Regions from separate parts of the Homo sapiens genome. Here region 2 is linked to region 1. The links come from fine-mapping of genetic effects on gene expression. Tissue or cell type: whole blood. Region 1 holds a variant in brackets; the other region holds the start of a gene. All regions are shown on one strand. Distances are from middle to middle.

Evidence for each region. PIP is the estimated chance that this variant, and not a neighbour inherited with it, causes the effect.
Region 2: it holds the start of FAM114A1, and the variant in region 1 is fine-mapped to the expression of FAM114A1 in whole blood (TOPMed, PIP above 0.99).

Annotation. Positions count from the first base shown.
Region 1 is chr4:38,825,800-38,830,928 of GRCh38, forward strand. TLR6 (toll like receptor 6) reads right to left here. Exons shown (of 2, transcript NM_006068.5): 2 at 1-3,738. The coding sequence starts at 3,674. The coding sequence ends at 1,284. Among named protein-coding and RNA genes, the nearest start is that of TLR1, 24 kb to the left of the region's middle. The variant C/T (reference allele first, on the strand shown) is at 2,282.
Region 2 is chr4:38,865,841-38,870,992 of GRCh38, forward strand. FAM114A1 (family with sequence similarity 114 member A1) reads left to right here and starts at 1,966. Exons shown (of 15, transcript NM_138389.4): 1 at 1,966-1,994; 2 at 2,558-2,706. It overlaps MIR574 (microRNA 574), which reads left to right and starts at 2,192; the gene lies at 2,192-2,287. It also overlaps a transcript of TLR6 not described here. RefSeq lists silencers at 1,730-2,209, 2,260-2,309 and an enhancer at 2,517-3,100.

The DNA.
Region 1 (5,129 bases):
AAATTCACATCCTTTTACCATGTCAATAATGGGAGGGCAGGTTGCTATCAGTGCTTCTCTTCTCTCATCCTGCCATTTTGGGTGCTCAAGCCAACCTTTCACCTCCTGAATTCCCCAGGGGGGAAGAACTCATCTATTCATTCAACAAATATTCATCAAGCACTTGTATTTGCCAAACACTATTTACCAGTCTCTGTGTTCCCAGTGCCCACCCTCGGACTCCAGCAAACACTCATCAAGCTCTTCCAAGAATTCTCAAGCCACACCACATCTGCTGCACTGAACCTGTGTGCTCCTGTTACTCTGCAAGCTTTCAGTCTTGGAGTGGGATGCCAGGCTACCTTCTACCATGCTGAGTCCCTCACACTTGTCTGCAAGAAATTCAAAGCAATCTCCCTATGGCCTAGAACCTCCGCTTAATGACTCTTTAATCACGCTTTTGACTCTAGTCTTCTAGAGATGGATAATACGGACTGGGAGTCATTGGTCTCTTTCTGCTCTTTTGATAAGTCCAGACTGGCTGTGTCTAGTATCATGTTGGTGCAGTTACTGTCTTTCGTCAGCTTTGAGCCTTTAGCCAGAATTCTAAGACAACCAGAAAAGTCCCATTCAATATCCAGCTGCAAATAAATTTGGCCGAGTTTTCTTGGAAAGCAGGTGGATCCACGTCTTTCACCTCAACAGCTTATGATTAAGTCCATATATCCCTTTACATACATACACTATCAAGTCATGAGTCCTCATTGGTTAATTACATATTTGTGTAGCAGGATAAAAAATTAAATAAGCTATTACACATATGTGAAACAAAAGACTTTTTTATATGCCGTAGCTGATCTAATTTTTTCCCCAAGCCCCAGACTTGAAGAGAATGATGACACTGACCCAAAGACCAATATGATTCACAGGGCACTCCGAGGACTGGTGCATATGATGCTGAAGTTGACTGTTCCCTTGCTGCCATGAAGCCATATAAACTCTTGCTCACAACAGAATCCATTTGGGAAAGCAGAGTGGAGAGGAGCTGAAAAACTGAGCATTTACTCAAAAGAGACTGTTTCAATTTGAAACATAATGATTAAACCAGAAGAGACTGGGCTGTCTCTAACTGGCAGGCTAACCTCACCGCCTAGCTCAGTTCCCCAGATGAAACATTGTTTTTGTTAAGTCTTTCCTGAAGGCATGAGGATAATGGAGGCACCTCCAGACAGTTACTTACGACTGTACTATTCACCATCATCCAAGTAAATAATGGTTTCTTAAGTTGAATTTCCTAAATTTTTTTAAGATTTCACATCATTGTTTTCAGTGACTAGTGTTAATTTCATATTAAAAGCGGCTCTAATGTTAGCCCAAAAGAGCCCACGTTTGCTTTTCTCCTTGGGCCACTGCAAATAAGTCCGCTGCGTCATGAGAGCCTTCAGCTTGTGGTACTTGTTGGGAATGCTGTTCTGTGGAATGGGTTCCAGTAAGATGAGGATTAAGTTATTAGATCCTTCATGAAAGAGATTGTGATGGGCAAAATAGAGTTCGTAATGGCACCACTCACTCTGGACAAAGTTGGGAGACAAAACAAAGATGGACTTGTAACTCTTCTCAATGCAGTTGATGATATTTTCCACAATGCTCTTGCCAGGGACAAAGTTTCTCTCATGAAGACAAATCTGTATATCTTCTTTTTCTAGGTAAGGTACCAATTCACTTTTCACCCAGGCAGAATCATGTTCACTATATGAAATAAAAGCATGAAACTGGAGGTTTCTTTGGAGTTCTTCTAAGGGTATGTTCCTGGCCCTGCGCCGAGTCTGGGTCCACTGGCACACCATCCTGAGATACCAGGGCAGATCCAAGTAGATGCAGAGGGAGGTCACAGTCACAGCCAACACCAGCATGGTGGCACCGATGGTGACGATCAGCAGAGTTATGTTGCAGGATAATTCAGACATGTGAAAGTCCTTTAGTGGGCTTCCTCTATAACTTTCTGGGTAGTCACACTTATAAGAATCAGGCCAGCCCTCTAACACTTCACTTGATACTTGGTCTATATTTTTGACAAATTCTCTTAGCTCACAGGTACATTGGAATGGATTGTCCCCTGCTTTTATTGACCTCATCTTCTGGCAGCTCTGGAAGAAATCAGCCGATGGGTGGGAAACTGAATTGTGATCAATGATCAATACAGAAAGGCTGCTAAAGCTGCCACATCCAGGAAGGTCAGTTAAAGAATTGAAAGCAACATTGAGTTCTTGCAAAGCTTCCAGTTTTACGACTTGTTTAGGAA[C/T]GCTCTTTATTTTATTGCTGTGAAGATCAAGTACCTTGATCCTGGGAGGTAAACATCTGAAAACAGAGTCAGTAAGCATATTTGAAGACAAATTTAACACCACTATACTCTCAACCCAAGTGCAGTTTTCTTTATGTCTACCAGATTCCAAAGAATTCCAGCTAACATCCAGTATTTCCAAAGAAGGCATATCCTTCGTCATGAGACCTACTTTGAAAAGGTCTTTTAATCCATTCTTTTGTAAGATAAGTGTCTCCAATTTAACTAACGTGGAACATTTTTCAAAAATACTATCTGTGAAAACGTTCTGGGTAAAGTTCAAAAACTTGAATGTGCTTGGTGCATGAGGACACAGCATGTGTATAAAAGGTGTATCTGAAATGGTTAACATCATAATGTTCATCTCAGAAAACACGGTGTACAAAGCTGTCTGTGAAAACAGAAAAACTTGGTTCGTGATATGTTCTATTGTCAATGCTTTCAATGTCGTTTTAGAATAAGTAAAATCTTCTTCACGAATGCTTTCAATTATTGTTAAATTGTAAATATTGAGATATTCCACAGGTTTGGGCCAAAGAAATTGAAAGACTCTGACCAGGCATTTCCAAGTCGTTTCTATGTGGTTGAGGGTAAAATTCAGTAAGGTTGAACCTCTGGTGAGTTCTGATAAAAATTTAATGAAAACTTGACAGTTGTCATCATTCAATTTAATATTAGTCAGTTGTAAGCACCCTAAAGTATTAACTGATATGTTCACTTGGATAGCGAATAAACTAGTTGGGTGAAAAACAAGGTGAAGGGTTTTTGCATTCAGAATTTGTAGACTTTCTGTCTCATTTTCTTTTATATAATAATTTCTTAAATCCAGAAGGATATAACTTAGATGCAAGTGAGCAATTGGCAGCAAATCTAATTTTTGCAGCTTCATAGCACTCAATCCCAAGAAATTCAGTTGTGATAAGTTGCCAAATTCCTTACAGATGGGCAGGGCCTTGAAATCATTGAATGAGAGATCTAAATGCCTGAAACTCACAATAGGATGGCAGGATATCTTTTGCAACTGATTATGAGATAAATCCAAATATTCTAAATCCTGGTTGAACTTGAAAACACTTAAATCAAGTAGCTGGATTCTGTTATGGGAAAGTCTCAAAACTGTCAACTCTGATAGAAAGCTCATGTCAGAGACCTGAAGCTCAGCGATGTAGTTCTGAGACATATCTAAGACTTTGGTTTTCAGCGGTAGGTCTTTTGGAACATGAATAAGACCTCTTTTTGACTTGTCTACTGCAAATTCATTTCCGTCGGAGAACTGGATTCTGGTTCCAACTATTATGATCATAAGGCAAACAAAATGGAAGCTTTTAACAATAGGTTCTTTGTCTTTGGTCATGATGTTGCAGTGGCTATCCTAAAGGGTTGTTCTTCTTCAGAGCATCTTGATATGAGTCCAAATTCTAGAAATATAATATACACTAAGATTAATAAAGATCGGATGGTTACTCTCAAACCTCCACTTACTAACCATAAAATCTAAATGATTTCTTCATTCACTAGTAGAGTCATTTCTGTCCCCATAATTTAATGTAATACTTTTTATAACCAGTTATATAGCTTGCTCATGCCAGAAGGGGCAATATAGGCCTTGTTATCAAAGAATTGTGGTTGTGTGTTTTGACCTGTCTGGTTGCTGCCTGAGGGATTCACACTCAGGGGCTTGCCTTTGTTTTGTACACCTTAGAACTTTCTCAGGGCTGGAACAGCCTTCTGGCTGGTGTTTGCTGTAAACAATTAAAGGCAAACATACTAGCTGCAGCCACCTGAGCAAGGGCTAACAGAGGGGGCAAGCAGCAGACACATCAAAAAGTCTGGGAAATATGCAAAGATATATGGAGAAAGATATGTGGGAGAAAAAAGGCTGAGGAAATCTCTGTATATACCAGGGAGTCCAGAAGTCCACTCACGTGCCCAAGGCTGGACGCATGTTCAGAGGAGACCTGAGAAAATCCTAAACTTCACCTCTGGCTCATCTTTAGCTTCCATGCATGCAGAAAGTGAAGGCTAAAGCAGAGCTGTGAATAGACTGGCTAAGCATTGAGAAAGTGATCCAACACAGCCAACCTGCAAAGATCAGGGGTGTTTTTGTTTTTGCTTTTGCTAGTTTATTTGGTTTTTGTTTTTGCTCCAGATGTTTAAAGAAATCTCAAGTTACTGGCTGACCACTAAGCTAACTGGACAGAAAATGTAATAGCCACACATGACAAAGAATAATCTTTATAAAAATTATTTAGAAAAGTCATTAAACAAGCAACTATAAGCCACAAGAAGCAACAATACACCCTGGGAAAGGGAGGCCCGGCACAGTGGCTTAAGCCTATAGTCCCAGAACTTGGGGAGGGCAAGGCAGGTGGATTGCTTGAGTCCAGGAGTTCAAAGCCAGCCTGCGCAACATAGTGAAACTCCATCTCTACAAAAAATACAAAACTTAGCTGGGCATGGTGGCGTGTGCCTATAGTCCCAGCTACTTGGGAGGCTGAGTGGGAGGATTGTTTGGGGCCGAGGAAGTCGAGGCTCCAATGAGCTGTGATTACACCACTGCACTCCAGCCTGGGTGACAGAATGAGACCCTGTCAAAAAATAAATAAATAAATAAATAAAACACCTCTGGGAAAGGGGGACAGAATTTGATTTCTAGAGTTACCTCATTGTAGTGTTTAAAATGTCTGATTTAAAAAAATAAAAATCAAAACAAAATAATCACTAGCCCCCAGATTTGCCAGTGGACTTGCTCTACGTTTTGCCCTGAAATAACACAAACCTTGCAAAAAGCAAATGGAAAGAGATTGTT
Region 2 (5,152 bases), 40 kb after region 1:
GAATTTAAAAATGACAGGCTGGGTGTGGTGGCTCACGCCTGTAATCCCAACACTTTGGGAGGCCGAGGTGGGCAGATCACTTGAGGTCAGGAGTTCGAGACCAGCCTTGCCACCATGGCAAAACCCTGTCTCTACTGAAAACACAAAAATTAGCCGGGTGTGGTGGCACGCACCTGTAATCCCAGCTACTCAAGAGGCTGAGGCAGAAGAATCGCTTGAACCCAGGAGATGGAGATGGTGCCACTGCACTGCAGCCTAGGCCACAGATCAAGACTCTGTCCTCCTAAAAAATAAAATAAAATAAATATTCAGTAGCTTAAAAAATTATTAATATAAAAATATTTAATAAAAATATTAAATAAGAAATATAGCCAGGCACGGTGGCTCATGCCTGTAATCCCAGCACTTTGGGAGGCCGAGGTGGGTGGATCACCTGAGGTCAGGAGTTCGAGACCAGCCTGGCCAACATGGTGAAACCCCGTCTCTACTAAAAAATACAAAAATTAGCCGGGTGTGGTGGCACGCACCTGTAATCCCAGCTACTCAAGAGGCTGAGGCAGGAGAATTGCTTGAACCCAGTAAGCAGAGGCTGCAGTGAGCTGAGATCACGCCACTGCTTTCCAGCCTGGACGACAGAGCAAGACTCCATCTCAAAAAAATGAATTAATAAATTAATTAATATATATATGGAAGAAACTGGAATATAAGGAGCAAACTAATTGTCAATAGGAGAATGATTGAATGAAATATAATTACAAACATATTGCAATATATAAGACAAGTCTTAGAAGAGTGGTTTTGGTTGATATGTATTGACCAAGAAAGATGATTATAATATATAATAAATAGGGGGAAATTTACAAAATACGTCAACATCTCGCCATTTTTATAAAAAAGCAAACAAAAAGCTGTTTATGCATACATGTATTTATATAAGCTTAGAAAAACTATGGTAGGATCCACACACTATAAAAAATGGTAGTGATATTGAAAGGGAGAGACTAGGGCTATTTTTTCTTTAACTTTGAATTTATAATTCTTCAAAAAGAAGAAGGGATGGAGTGAGAGAGGAGAAAATCTGCCTTAAACACATCGCTCAGAAAGAATCACTATTTTTAAATTGTATTTCCTCCGACTTTTATAGAAAATACAAAATTGTTTACAAAACTAGTTAATACTATAAACACTGCGCTTCCTCCGCATCTGAGTTCATATTAAGCCATATTTGAGGAAGGCCTTCATATGTGGCCTTCCCTCCATGTCAACGAATCCTCATTTTTAAGGGCTACAACATATTCGATGTCTGAAGTTACTGTAGCTTACTTCACCAATCTTACTGGGGGACATTGAGATTGTCTCCGGCTTCCCCCCGCAGAAACAACTACAACAAACATCCTTGTACATACATATTTGCCCATTTGACTGCCTACTTAGGACAAATTCACAAATGTGGAATTCCTAGGCCAAAGCTAATACATCGGAGTTTTAACCCACAGCTCCAAACTGGCCTTCTGGAAAGTGGGTTTTCGTTGTTTGTTTGGGGTTTGTTTGTTTTAAATCTATCACACTCCCACCGACAGGGCAAGGGAGTGCTGCTTAACGCAGAATCAGGAGATCAAACTTTAGCTGAATTTGAGCGACCTCTTCCCAGTGACACGGCGGGGGGTTTTCCAAGCCCTTTTAAGGAAAGGAAAGGGATCTGGCGAACCCCGAGACCCACCCGCCCTGGGCTGGAGAGGCGGCGCGCTCTGGCTTTCCGCGCTGGCACAGGGGTGGGACAAGCCAAGTTTCCAGGAGACTCGCCCAGCGCGGGCCCGGCCCTCGCAGCGTGGGGGTGGCCGGGCGTCCCCGCGGCGCTCCTCGTGGGGCGGGGCGCAGGCGGGGCGGGGCCCCCTCTCCAGCCGCCCGCCCTCCGGCCGCGTCCCCGCCGGCCCTGCAGACGTGGCGGGGCGGGACCCGCTGGGCACTCCCGCGCGTACTCGGCCGCCTGAGCGGTAAGAGCCCCGGGCACTCGGTCCCCATCCCCTTCCCCGGGGGGCGGGCGAGCGCGGGGGCGGCTGCCCGGGGGTGGTGGGAACACCATACCTTGGCGCCTCGTCCGGGACCCACGAATCCTGCCCTCTGCGTTAGTGAGAAGCAGTGGTCAGGGAGGACCCGGCTCTGGGGTGAGGGTCTGGGGCGGCGCGGCCGAGGGACCTGCGTGGGTGCGGGCGTGTGAGTGTGTGTGTGTGAGTGTGTGTCGCTCCGGGTCCACGCTCATGCACACACCCACACGCCCACACTCAGGGTCTGCCCCCTCGGCCTGCGTGAACCTCCGCGGAGCCTGCCTGGATCTCCCAAAGTATCCAGTCCTGGCACCAAGCAAGTCTGGAAAAGTGCCCCCAATGGCTCGGGGCCAAGTCAGAGGTGGGCTGCAGGGTCCCCCAGCCCGGGCACGAAGGGAGCAGGTCCCTGTAAGACAGAGGCCTCGTCCCAGGGTGCGCCTGCCCTCGGCCTTGGCACAGGGAGCTCAGGCCTTGACCTCCCCGCTCCCCTCGCCTTACTCCTCCCCCAACAGCCGACCCACGCCCTGCCTGCTCTTCCAGTCCAGCCAACACTCTAAGCAGGCACCGCCTCCACTCGCAGCCCCCGGGATGGGTCCCACTCCCTACCGCAGATCCCCAGGCCCCCTCCACCCAGTCGGCTAGCCCTCGCCTCTGCCATCCGGTGAGTATTTCCAGGCACCTCAGACCAGGCGCCTGAACGTCACTGCCTTTTCTTAAGTAGGAAGACATCTCTCTATGGGCTGTGAGAGCATTACCTATGCCCTACTGATCCCATCATTTCCCATCCTAAACATCTTGAAGGACACAGGCAGGTGGCTTCTTAAATCAGTGTGCTCTGAACTCCCTGTGACCTCAGCCAACCTGTGACAACTGAGAATGAGACAGGCTCTATCCTCAGAGCCTCTTTTTGCCCTCTCTGCAGCCTAGTGGCTCCTTCCCTACCCCACCCATAGGCCTGCGTCCCCGCCCTCCTTTCTTCCATCAAGCCTGAGCTTGGGAAAGAATCTGATAAACTTCTTACATTGTAACCTTTAAGTGAAGGAATGAGACGTTAGGGATGGATTTGAGGCACAAGTGAGACAGTGCAGAAGGAATTTGAGGGTTGGAGGGGGCTTTCTTGAATCTGAGCGATTCAGACCATAAAAGTAAACTTGTCTTTGTTTATTTGACCAGGCTTACATCAAACATGGTTTCTCTTTTATTAATATCAAACACAATGTATTTCAATTCAGTAAATATCTGAGGGACAGAAACCAACCTAGGTGCTGTTGGTCACAGTCTTGGAGGACAGAATGGCAGAAGTAAATACTCCATAAATACATGGAATAGAAATCTGTGCAAAGTGCCAAAAACATAGAAGAGGTAGCAGTTATTTCATTGGAAGCAGTGGGGCAGATTAAGGAAAAATTCAGAATGAAAGGTAACATTAGACACTGGGTGTCTAGAGGAATAGGAGTTTGCCAGGCAGCTGGAGGAAGGGCAGCACCGGGGCAGAGGAACCAGCGTAAGCAAAGGCAGGGAGATGTGAAGAGTTATGGGGAATGGAGAAAAGACTGGTGAGGCAGGAGTGGAGGATACTGAGAGTTGCAAGAGGTGGAGAGAGATTGGAGCTGGATTATGATGGGAAGTGTGAAGATATTTACACCTAATGGTTTTTGAACAGGAGAGCAAATAGGTCCAAAAATGCCTGGCAGCCTCACAGAGAATAGGCTGGAGCCTGGGTACGTAGACTTGTCAAGCTTTATACAAACTCATACAAACTGCTACAACCTGATTAAGAGCCTCTCATCCAGAGTTTTTATTCCTGGTCCTTCGCTGACTGGCACTGTTTTTGTTTTTTTTTTTTAACTGGGGGAGATGACCTCACACAGGATATCATGCTAACCAAATTTTTATGCTGCCAAGTCAGGCCATTTTTTTTAAAAAAATCCATCCACTGTCACTATTTCATAAAATGAAAGACATTTTAATACCAAGAAAAAGCACAAAGGCTAAACTTGAAAGATGAAGGCAGTCCTTTACATTTAATAAATTTAGATTTATGAAAAACTTGCAATCTTGTCCTCATTTTTCTCTATCATCACAGACTTGCCCCAGTCCTGCAGGTGGAGTTTGGAAAAAAAAGCATCCAGATCAGTTTGTCCATCCTAGCTTTACAGAGGAGCAGGTGTAAGCACAGTGAGGATCAAGTTGTGTGCCCACAAAGGGATACTGGGACCAGAGGCCACATCCCTTGACGCCTGCAGGACACAACTCTTTCCACCTCAGAATACCATCGCTCCCACCTCTCATCATTCCTCCATGCAGCCTCATGTCCTGGCCTCTCAGACACCTGTCCTGAATCACTACAGTCCATCGCTGATGCTTGGACATTTGCACATGCTCTCATCCCACCAGGCCTGAATCACCACATCAAAGACACTTTCAAGATTCTCCCTTGCACAGGGTCAGTCTAGTTCAGGCACATCTGTCCTTGATTTGCTGTGCTGTTTTGCATCACTTTTTAACTGTTTTGTGTTAGCTCCTCAAACAGATGATTGATTTCTGAAGGATAGTGACCATGTCTTCTGTTTTATACTTATTTTTGGAGCTGTGATGTTGCTGCTTAAATACCTTGCATAGTTCTGGGAGCATTTTAGGTGATGAATGAATTTACTCACGAAAAACTAACTTATTCCCAGCCCACAAAGGCTTCTTTATATGCCACCCTTCCTCTCCTTAGAGTTTCCTGAAGCAGCCTCCTTGTTTCTGTGGGTTGAGTCTCCCTAGCCTCCAGTCCACGAGACATGGCTACAGTGATCAGTGTTCCTAACCATAAATCAGGAAAGGTTTCTAAGTCTGGCTTATGGAACACCCAGACGGAGATGGAAACCGTCCCAGGAAACACAGTGCTTGTCATGACTGTAATCCTGGTGGACTCCAGCAGCCCCTGCTCAGAAACAGTTCTGTATTTCAAACACACAGTTTCTAGTGGTTTCATACAAAAGGGTATAGTCTGAAAAATGATTACATTTCCCCCATCATGATAGCATCCACAGTCGATAAAGTTCTACCAGAACAACCAAACAAAAAATAATTTTTTTTCGTTTTGATTTGGGGAAAATTAG